Regions from separate parts of the Homo sapiens genome. Here region 2 is linked to region 1. Evidence: fine-mapped expression QTL. A gene starts in region 1. The other region holds a variant in brackets. All regions are shown on one strand. Distances are from middle to middle. Region 1 holds the start of LINC03140 (long intergenic non-protein coding RNA 3140). Region 2 has its middle 31 kb from the start of LINC03140.

The links. PIP is the estimated chance that this variant, and not a neighbour inherited with it, causes the effect.
Region 2: its variant is the best candidate, but not a certain one, in a credible set for the expression of LINC03140 in adrenal gland (GTEx, PIP 0.79).

The regions. Positions count from the first base shown.
Region 1 is chr4:128,568,267-128,573,651 of GRCh38, reverse strand. It overlaps LINC03140 (long intergenic non-protein coding RNA 3140), which reads left to right and starts at 3,109. Exons shown (of 2, transcript XR_007058268.1): 1 at 3,109-3,427; 2 at 4,365-5,385.
Region 2 is chr4:128,598,834-128,604,218 of GRCh38, reverse strand. No RefSeq gene overlaps it. Among named protein-coding and RNA genes, the nearest start is that of LINC03140, 31 kb to the right of the region's middle. The variant C/T (reference allele first, on the strand shown) is at 2,856.

The sequences.
Region 1 (5,385 bases):
TACTTGGAATCCTTGATCTTTAACCCAATTTTGAGCATTACACTGTCCCTATTTAACGCAAAAGGAATATTTTGGAATTTTAAAAGAGCCACAAAATATCAAACCCAAGATCCTAGTTTTGGGTCTTGTTTGTTTGTAAGGGTGGAAGGATTTCACATCTTATTTTGTACTTACTGTGTTCCCAGCAGCTTTTGTTTTGCTCACATCTCACACAGAGCATACTCAATTCAGTGAACTAATTTGGTTGTATGGTAAGCACTGCAGAGAAGCTATGAAAAAAAGTCACAATCGGGAAGGTAGAAAAGGTCTTCCAAGGATGCACTGAATCTGTTACATATACTCTGGGGCCTCCGAGTTTTCTGGGAAAAAACAAAAGCAAAACAGTGGCTGGGAAACCAGCTTAGTACATAGGTATTAAAGCATGGAACAGCTTCTTTTGACTAGTTTAAGAGGAAGCCATAAAGCACAAGTTCTTGGAATTATGCCAGCAAAAAGTGTAACCCTTTTATTTATGGGGGCATTCATCAGAACTGGGCCTTTGTGAGCCTACCCCAGACTGTGGTCACTTGGTTTAGTCAGTTGCTGACTTCTCTGAGAGAACACATCCCCTTTTAGCAGAAATAAGGAGCAAGGAGAACCACTGGGTAGTGACTATCACAGTGATTCCCATTGGAAACCAACCCACGAAAGCCCTGTAAAGAATAGCCCTCCTGTATTCCATGCCAGTGAGTGATACTTACACACAGGACGGGTGAGACAACATGGATCCACAAACACCTGGTTTACTTATATTGGCCATGATGGTGCCCTCAGGACAAACCACAGATAGAGATCTACCCAAGGAATTCCTGAGTTCATAGGCTGACCGTGTCCTTTGATCCCCAACCCAGCCATTTCTATATGACCTCTGTTGTTGTCCCAACTGAACCCCATTCTTCTCTCTTTTGTGGTTGTAAGGATGAAAAACTTGATGACTTCTTTCTCTTCATCATGGCTACTTCTCAGAATGTCTTGCTGACCACGTCATTGTTGCCTGATTCTATTGATCTAATAAAATCTATTTCTATCAACAAAATATAACTATGTGTGACCACATATTTATACCTTTTCACAAATGGAACTTCTTACAAATAGATTTCCCATCCATGTTAACTTATTAAGTAAAATTTTCCTGTTTTTTAATAAAATAAGTTTTCCTAATCTCAAATACTATCCAACAGATGTTAGTCACAAACATACATCATAAGTGGGAAAGTATTATAATAAAGCTCATTAGTGCTGTTTATTTACCTTTCAAATGCTATTGAATTTTTACATGAGTTTCTCTATAAGTTCATTAGTTGTTATTAAGAAATAAATATATGATTGAATTTTCCAAATATATTTGAATTTCATAGTTTAGCATTTCATACGAGAGAAATAATCAGCCAATGTTTTTGCCTGCTGTTTCCATGAAGATTTCATTTATCTTAGAAGTGATTAATATAGAATGACTATAAATAATATAAATTTAAATAGAATATACTTTTTTTTTTGCTATGTTGTTTGTTAGGCTTTACAATGTTGTAAAAAAACTGTAACAATCCTCTCAGACTGGAATTTTTCTTTATCAAACTTTTCCTCCATTTTCAGGAAGGAACAATGATTCAGAAGTCTTGTAGATTAGTCACTTCTTAAGAAGTTAGATCATTCAGTACTGCATCTTAGCCAACTGTCCAAGGTCAGCAAAATGCACAGCATGTTCTGTTTGATGGCCCCAGGCAGAAAGCCACAGCATTCAAACTATTAATATCTCCTGACCTTTCAACTTACAAATAGAAGCATCCTTGTGGTCATTTTTTTTTCCTGTATATCCCTGAAAAACTAAGGATCTAGGGTTTAAGATAAGAAATACTTAATTTAATTTAATTTAATTAGTTTTTAACCACAATCCTGGGCTTTTATATAAAAGCACACTGTTTATTTCTTTTTTCCTTTTGAGATAGGGTCTCACTCTGTCGCTCAGGCTGGTGTACAATGGTGCGATCTGGGCTCACTGCAACCTCTGCAGCCTGGGCTCAAATGATCCTCCTGCCTCAACTTCCCAAGCACCAGGGACTACAGGCATGCGCCACCATGCCTGGCTAATTGTTGTATTTTGTGTAAAGACAGAGTTTCTCCATGTTGCCCAGGCTGGTCTCGAACTCATGGACTCAAATGATCTGCCTGCCTTAGCCTCCCAAAGTGCTGAGATTACAGACATGAGGTACCGTGCCTGACCACTGTTTATTTGTTTCATAAAATTTTCTTAAACACCAATTATGTGCAAGTTACCATGCCAGGCCTCTGGGAAACAAAGATGAATCAGTCAGATGTACCTGCAAGGAGCTTATGGTCTAACTGGGGAGAAGAAATACAGCAAAATACTATAACATAGGGTAAAAAGTAAGAAGTACCACAAGAGAAGCACAGACAAGATGATTTGGGGGTTCCAAAAAAATAGATTATTAAATTTTGTGGGCTGGCAGCAGAGAGGAAGGAATTGGTAATTAATCTGAGAAGATGACATTTGAGCTTGCTCTTGATGGACAGAATTTAAAATGTAGAGAGGAGATGTAAGTGCAGACATTTCAGATTGAGGAAAGAGCATAATTAAGGGCATGGAGGTCAGAAAACATGGGGTAATAAAAAAAGGTTCAAGTAGTTCAGTTTAGTTAGAGAACATGGTATATGAATTTAAAAAATCACTGAACTAAAATCAGAAAATTACTTTGAGACCAAATCTAGAGGGCTATTAACACCAGATGATAGAGTATGGACTCTATTTTACAGACAGTGGGAGCCCGCTGAAGGGAAATGCCACATTCAACTTATGCTTCAGTGTCGGATTCCATTGGAAAGGGGGCGGTGACTGGAAGTGAGGACACCAACCCATCAGGCGTGCTCTCATTTAGTTTTCTAGCGGAAAAAAAAAAAAAAGCCTGAAGCAAGGATTAAAGTACTGACATTTTATTTGGGAAGCACAAGCCCAGGCCAGGGAAGCTGCAGAAAAAGGAAAAAAGGGAAGTGAGTATAGGAAACAATGCACAGTCATGCCTTGCACAACTGGCTTCTGCTTCGGGATGAGCCATTGGCTGATGAGGCATGGGAGGCTCAGCAGGTCTGTTCCCTTGGCATGTGGGACATCTTGCAGTGGATGCAGGGAGGGACCATGCCTCTAGCATTCTCTGGGAAGAATAAAGGAGAAGTTTATCTTCCCACCTACCTCCCATTGCCTGTTTTTCATTGGTCAAAACTTGTCCCACTAGGAATTAACTCCTTCACATTTCCAAGTTTATATCATATGACTGCTCCAACTACATGGGACCCCAAACCCCAAACCTGATGTATGTATAGTGTTCCTGTTTCATCCAAGCCTGGAAATGAGGGGAAGAGCCAGAACCTCTAGGTGAGTACTAGGTGGCTTGGCAGTGTGTGTGTGTGTGTGTGTGTGTGTGTGTGTGTGTGTGGTTGAGGGGTGGAGAGTTAAGGGGACTTCTAAGGTAAGTCCCTGATTAGTCCCAGCCAGTTGAACTGTGTTGGGCAGGTATGGTGGTTGAGTAGTTGAAGGTCCTAGAAGTGGACAGTGGCCACAGTGTCTAAGGAGGCACAGAAGATTTGTGTTGAGATAATGATTCAAGAGAAAAGAAGGACCCTTCATACTTCAGTCAGAGAAGAATTCTTTTGGTGGGCTATCATGCTCTTGGGTTAAATTCTTTTCTCTGTAACATTATTTAGAAAATCGCCTCCCTCTCAACAATGAAGACTGAGTACCACTGGCTTACAGATATTTCTGTATATTATCTGAGTTAGTAGAGTTTGAGTATCACATTTCTTTCCTTCCAATTCTATGATTTGTCATCATAAAGTTTTGGCATACGCAGCCCAGTCTTTGGAAGAGGGGTTGAGAATTGTGTAATATCAGGTTTAGCATTATAAAGTAACATCTATCATCTGAAGATGAGACTATAAACACCAGTCTGGACATAATAGAGCATGCTTAGCCCACTTGTTTGGAACTACAAGGAAAATAAGGTCATACAAAAGAGCCCTCTGCCCTTAAAAAAGAATTCTCAATTGCAAATCACTTCTGAGTACCAGTGGGGAAATGCAGTCATTTATTCTCAAGACTGAAAAGAGAAAGGAGACCTTTTTATCACTTTGTGTGTGTGTGTGTGTGTGTGTGTGTGTGTGTGTGTGAGAGAGAGAGAGAGAGAGACAGAAAGAAAGAGCAGGAGAGAGAGAGAGACAGAGAGAGAGAATATGTGTGTGTGTTACCTACCTAAAGCTAATGGTAGCCAATTTTTTCCTTTTTTTCTTGGAATTTTTTTCTTAATCTAAAACAGGCTTGGTGCTCTGGAAAAAGAATTAGAATTGCATTCAAATAGTCAGGCTTCAAGTTGCTTCTGCCTCTGTGTGAAGCAAATAGTAACAACTCACTTCGAAACTCAGGCTCCTGGACTGTAAATGAGGATAATGATACTCACCCTACCAACCTCAGGGACTGTTCTAAGAGCAAAATGAAATGAGACTGAGCTCTGAAAATGCTTAAATGCTTTTCAAAGTAGAGTGATCGTGCTTTCTGTAGCATCAAAACAGTCCTCTATAAATGGGCAAAGTCAAGGCATGGACTGGATCTGACAACAGAGAATGGCTTGAGGGCTGGAAAAAGAAAAAAATGCAAATGCCCCAAATCTCTGCTTCCCTTACAGTGTGGAAATCGCCCCATAACACACTGCACCAGGTAGGGTTAAATTGATCCCAAATGTTTCAGGAATTTTTAATGCCCTTCGAAGAGACATTTCCAATTCTTCATCTGCCCAAAGTAATGCTGCTAACCTACTATCTGTCAGTTTCCTCAGTGCTTTGAAGATTTTTCTAAAGTCATCTGACTTGGTTTCCCTTTGATTTCAAATTCCTGCTTATTATATGTATGACCTTGAGCCTTTTTAACTCATCTGAGCCTCTCTGTTTCCTCATCTATAAATTGTGAATAAGAAGACGTTACTGTAGGATTATTAGAAACTTTAGAAATAATACTTTTAATACCAGCATAGTGCCTGATCCATAGGCATCCAGGACATGCCAGCTAAGATCATTGATTATTGTTGTCGTTTTTAGTATCATACAGTAGAAAGAACAACATCTTTGAAACCAGACAATCCCGCATTTAAATCAGCTCTGTCACTTACGAAACGTGTAATCCTGAATAACTGAAGAAAACTTTTTGAAGTTCAATTTTGAGATAATGATGGATGATTTCAGACTTTGTGAGAATTTCAGAGGTATCGGCAGTAGGTTGAATGGTGAACCCTCCAAAAGATATATCTATGTTCCAAACTCAGAATCTGTGAATGTGACATTATT
Region 2 (5,385 bases), 31 kb before region 1:
GCTCACCTCTGCCTTGAAGTCCTGGGCTCAAGCAGTCTTCCTGCCTCTGCTTCCTGAGTAGTTGGGACTACAGGTGTGCACTGCCATGTTGCCTGGTCTGGCCTCAAACTCCTGGGCTGAAGCCATCCTCCTGCCTGGTCTCCTAAAGTGTTGGGATTACAAATGTGAGCCACCATGCTCAGGCTATTTCTAAGACTATTATGGCATAATGGGTACTCAATAAATATTTGTTGAAAGAACGAATGAATCAACTTATAGTCTTAGACGGAAAAGACAAAGGATCAGATCTCTTTTTGCTAACCCCAGCACTGGATTGGTGAATGCTGCCTTCTATTTGAAAGTGTGTAAAATTCTTCTTCCAGATATAAACTAAAATCAAAGACTACCTCTGCATGCCATCCCATGAAGCAGTCTGCTGTTGCGATATCAGGTGTGGCTTCCACCACCACTGCCACTATCATCCTACATATTTTTTTTTTTTTTAGACTCTGTCACCCAGAATGGAGTGCAGCGGTGTGATTTTGGCTCACTGCAGCCTCCGCCTCCTGGGTTCAAACAACTATCCTGCCTCAGCTTCCCAAGTAGCTGGGACTATGCCACCATGCCCATGCCACCACACCTGGCTAATTTTTGTATTCTTAGTATTGATGGGGTTTTACCATGTTGGTCAGGCTGGTCTCAAACTCCTGCCTCAAGTGATCTGCCCACCTTGGCCTCCCAAAGTGCTGGGATTACAGGCGTGAGCCATCATGCCCGGCCTTCATCCTACATTTCTCTATTCTTCTTCTGTCTCCTCTTATCAAAATCTGAACTGATCCAGAAATCTTCCAGCCCTTGGTGTGTGTGTGCACATACATACACACACACACACACACATACATATATAGATATGTATGTATTTTCTTGATCTTAGTCCTAATGAAAAACATGTGGAGCATAGCAAGTAATTCCTTCTTATCCTATGAATAGCAATTCAAGGGATGGTTTCCAAGGAATTATTAAAACACACACAAGAATTTACATTATACTCCAGTGGGTAGTAACAAATTGAAAAGTTATCAATGCTTTATAATGTGGGGAAAACTCTGAGTATATAACAATCTTGGGCAGTGAAAAAGAAATAACCCAGATTCCACAGTTTGAACTGCTGACCTTTTTCTGTAGCTGATCAACATTTTTCACCTCACTTAGTTTACTAATTTACTATTTTCTTACGCTAAATTTTGCATCCTTTTGGTATAAAGTGCCAGCATACCCAGAAAATATTTTTGCATTTCACATGCTAGTTAAAATACACCCTCACATAGTTTGTGTCTTTGAAAATAATTTAGTACCCTATGATTAATACACCAGACTCATATAAATATAAATAGACATAAATACACATATATATATGTTTCGTCTTAGTTTCCATCTGAGTTTAACTGAGAAAATCCCCATATAACAAACATATGTACAAGTCCCAGCCAATGATCCATTCTAGACAATGTTAAATAAACCAAATCTGGTTTGGCCAAAGAACTTAGATAGTCCCTTGGAGTTTTCTGCTACATCAGGTGTAACTGAATGTAAAATTTTCTATCTGGAATTTCAGGGGCAATTAAAACTCTTAATAATTCTTTTTCCCTTTGGCTGTACCTTTATTGGTTGGCAATGAATTGGTTGGCTTCTGACCAACATAGGAAAAAAACATACTTTTTTCTCAGAAAACTTGTGATGACAGCTGTCATTTTCCAGCTCTCAGATGCCAATGGGAATTGACCCCAATAGTCATAAGCAATAAATTTCTGTACAGAGAAAATCCTATTAATGGAGGAGCATTTTCCATTAGGAAATTCCTTCTAATAAGAAATAACTAAAAACTACTTACTGTTCTCTTTACAGTGCCCTGTCCCATGACAGGCCCTCATTCCAGGCCCCACCACAGTGATATCTCTATTGTACCACCAGCTCCCCAAAGTGGTGACAGGAGCCCTGGGCCTGAGCTGCAGCAGTGACTCAGCACGCCCCAAATGTCTCCAAGTTTCCAAGGCCACCCCACAGTTGTATAGTAGCTCCAGTCAGGCTCCTGGGGAGGTCTGTCTGACCTCATTACCATGGAGCAAGACAGGATTTTGTAGAACATGCTTTTTTCAGTCTCTTTAAAGAGCACAAGCCAGGACACACAAAGACTAGAAGCTGGTTTCTAGGAAATTTAACCTCTCAAAATATGGGCATCATTGAATGTCCCTGATACAGTCATTCTTCAGCTGCCACTGTCTGAAAACAACATACACAAAAGATGAAAGACAACTTTGAATGACAAGCCCCCGACTCAGGACTAATGATAAGATTATTAAAGTCACACATCAGCCTACCAGAAGCAAAAATTTTCTTCCCTGAAAGAGTTGAGAAGTGTCACTGTCCAGTGAGGCATTTATTTTCAAACTAAATCCAGTTAAGAAGCTGGGCTGCTGGCCATAACTCCTACAGAAACTAACGTATACTTCTGTGCCTCTGACAGCCCGGCCCAGTGATGAGTACACAGTTGTAATTGAATTGCATTTGATGTTGTTTGCACTAACACAGCACCAGACTTCAGGACAAACCACAGCTCTGCAGAGCAGAGTTCTGGCCCACTCTCCCCCCACCTCACCCCCCGTGGCTTGGGTCTGCCCTTGTTGTCCTGACCTGCCGGAGGTTTCATCAGCATTACCTCTGACTCATACTTCGCATTCAAGAGCAAGATGAATTCGCTAGCAATGAGTACCTGGAAGAGGGCCAGACTATTGGTACTAAAGCAGTGCTGGCCCCAACACAGCTCGCTGGGCCAGACGTTGATGGGAAATGGCTGACAGCAGGATAAACAAGCAGCT[C/T]CCTTTTTGGTGAGCTTCAGGGGAATCAGGTGGACAGAATCAAGGCTTCAGGTATGCTCTTCAGAGGCTCTGTGGAGTGGTGGGAGGCTGTAAAACAGCACTGGAGATGGTTGTGGTTCTCCCCCAGCAAAAGCACCGGCAGGAAGAAAGGCAGATTGGCAAACAGTGTGGGCCCACAGTGCGAGCCAGGGGAGAAGCCATCAGGTGACACATCAAGCCGTGAGAGGCAGCTGGTCAGGGACCCCTCAGTTCCCCACCGTCCTGCAGAGACATGGGGGGCAGTGTCCGTGCCTCCCTCCCTCACCACCTGAGCTGCTCCACAAGAAATTCTGAGCGCCACTGGGCAAGTAGAGGGAACCAAATGCCTCAAGATGGAGAAGAGTGCAAGGTCTAACTAGCAGTACTGTGGAAGAGCAACACAGACAAGAGGTGTAGAATTAGCTGGGCAGGGTGTATGGGTTCCTTCCGGTGCCTGCATACCTGAGAAGAAGTCATTCGTTGAGCTTAGTTTAGGTTTTAAGGCAGTTTTGGTGTTTGAGGCTTATTTAGCACACATAAGTCCAAGGTAGCATCAGACAGAATTATAAACTTCATGTGACTTTTCAAAACAACCCAGTGAGCCCATTGTTAGCAAATAGCAGTCAGCCGAGATAAGCGGCCATTCTAGGAGCAAAGGCACTTGTGCCAGGAAAACAAGAACAAGCACGAGCAAGAAGCAGGGCAATGCAATCCACAAACACAATTCATGCTTTACAGCTGTGAGACAATGCTTCTTTTGCTTGGACCTCAGGCTCTGCAAACTGCAGCACAGAGGAGGGTAAGTGTGCAGTGGCCCCTAGAGAAGAGTGGTCAGTAATGAAATTGCACCCCACTTTACTTGCCCCTTTGTGTTCCTGGGTCACTGCCAGGCTGTCCCAATCCTGCAACATGTGGAAAGCCAGTGTGTTCAGATGGAATAGTAGGGGATGCAACCTAAAGAGATTACTAGTAAGATTTTCCAGAAAAAGAAAAATAACTATTTTTTAAGCATGAGCAGGGGTGGGGAGGGGTGGGGGGAAGAAAGTTTCTTTGTTTCTCATTGGAAAGCTTTGCAAGCTATTGACTTATTGAGGAAAATCAGGACAATTGGGTACACAGCTTTGACTTCTGGTGATTTCTGACACTTTCCTCGAAAGCCTATCACTCCACACTGAGGGCCCCAGGATTGACTGTTTTACAGAAGCTCTTATGTATTGAGGTCCTGTATGAACTGGACCCATGTAAGATGGGGAGTGGTGACAAACGTTGGCTCAACCTCAATTGTGAGATTATGGTTCAAGGTTATTTTCTTAGAGATAGTGAGTCTTCAGAAAACCTTTGAGTAAAGGCAAATGAAAGGCTTGTGTCTAAAAACAGGCTTCCAAAAGTGGAAATAGGACACAGGAAGTGGAGAGTCGGAAAACAAAACAAAACAGATGAGCTGGAATGAGAAGAGTAGAGAGAGAAGTAGAAAGACAGGGAGAGACTCTGTAAGGAAAGCTGTGAAGGAAAAGGATTGCAGCCTCTTGGCTTTATTTTCAGTTAGTGCCTCATACAATTCACGAGGTGAGGCTCCCACACATTCTGGCCTGTTCTCCCCAATTATGGGGGTGGGGAGGTAAATGAACTACACCCAGACTTCTTGCAGCTGTCACCTCAATATCAGGTATCTGCGAGGTGGGGAGAGAGGTGGGAGGATTGGTAAGGGGCTGTATAATTACTGGGAACTCCAGCCAATGTAACACATGGTTATGTGGGCCTATGTAGTTAGGTTTCACTATCCCTATTGACTGTGCCAGACCCTGAACTAAATACTGGAGTGTCGAGATCAAGAAGGCATGATTCCCGCCCTTAGGAGTGCACCATCAAAGGAGGTGAGGAGTGCATCTCCTCACAGGAGGAGACAGATGAGTAAACTGAACATTTTGATTCAGTACGTTTTGGGATACAGGTAGGAACCAGAGCTGCAGGGCCAGGGGAAGGGGGCACCTCCCCCAAAGGCAAAGGTCCTATCCTCGGTCCCACAGAACAGCTTACAAGACTCCTCCTCAGGTGCAGCTGGTTCGGAGGGTACGGTCGTCTCCAGCTGTCTCCTACATCGTCTCTATTTTCTCACTGGCTCCTTCTAGTCTAGGTCTCTCCAATCCTATACACATCGTTTCCAGCTCTGTTATGCCTTCAGGCTACTGGCTGAGACTTTTTCTTTTACTGCTAAAGCATAGCATACATTTTCCTGCATTTCCTCCCTACCCTCTCATTTTTCACCCACGCCTTGATGTCAAGTTCCTCTCTGTACCACTTTATCATAATCTCCCTCTTGAAGAAGAACCACCAGTGATTTCCTCATCACTAAATCCAATGATCCTCATTGATGTTATTATACAGGGAGCTGACTGGCAACTACCACACTACAAGCTAAAACTCTCCCCTCTTTCACTTTCCCAGGCCTGTCTGCCCTTGTTCTTCCTGCAGTTCTCCTGTGCTTCCTTCATTAGCACCAATTCCCTTTCCC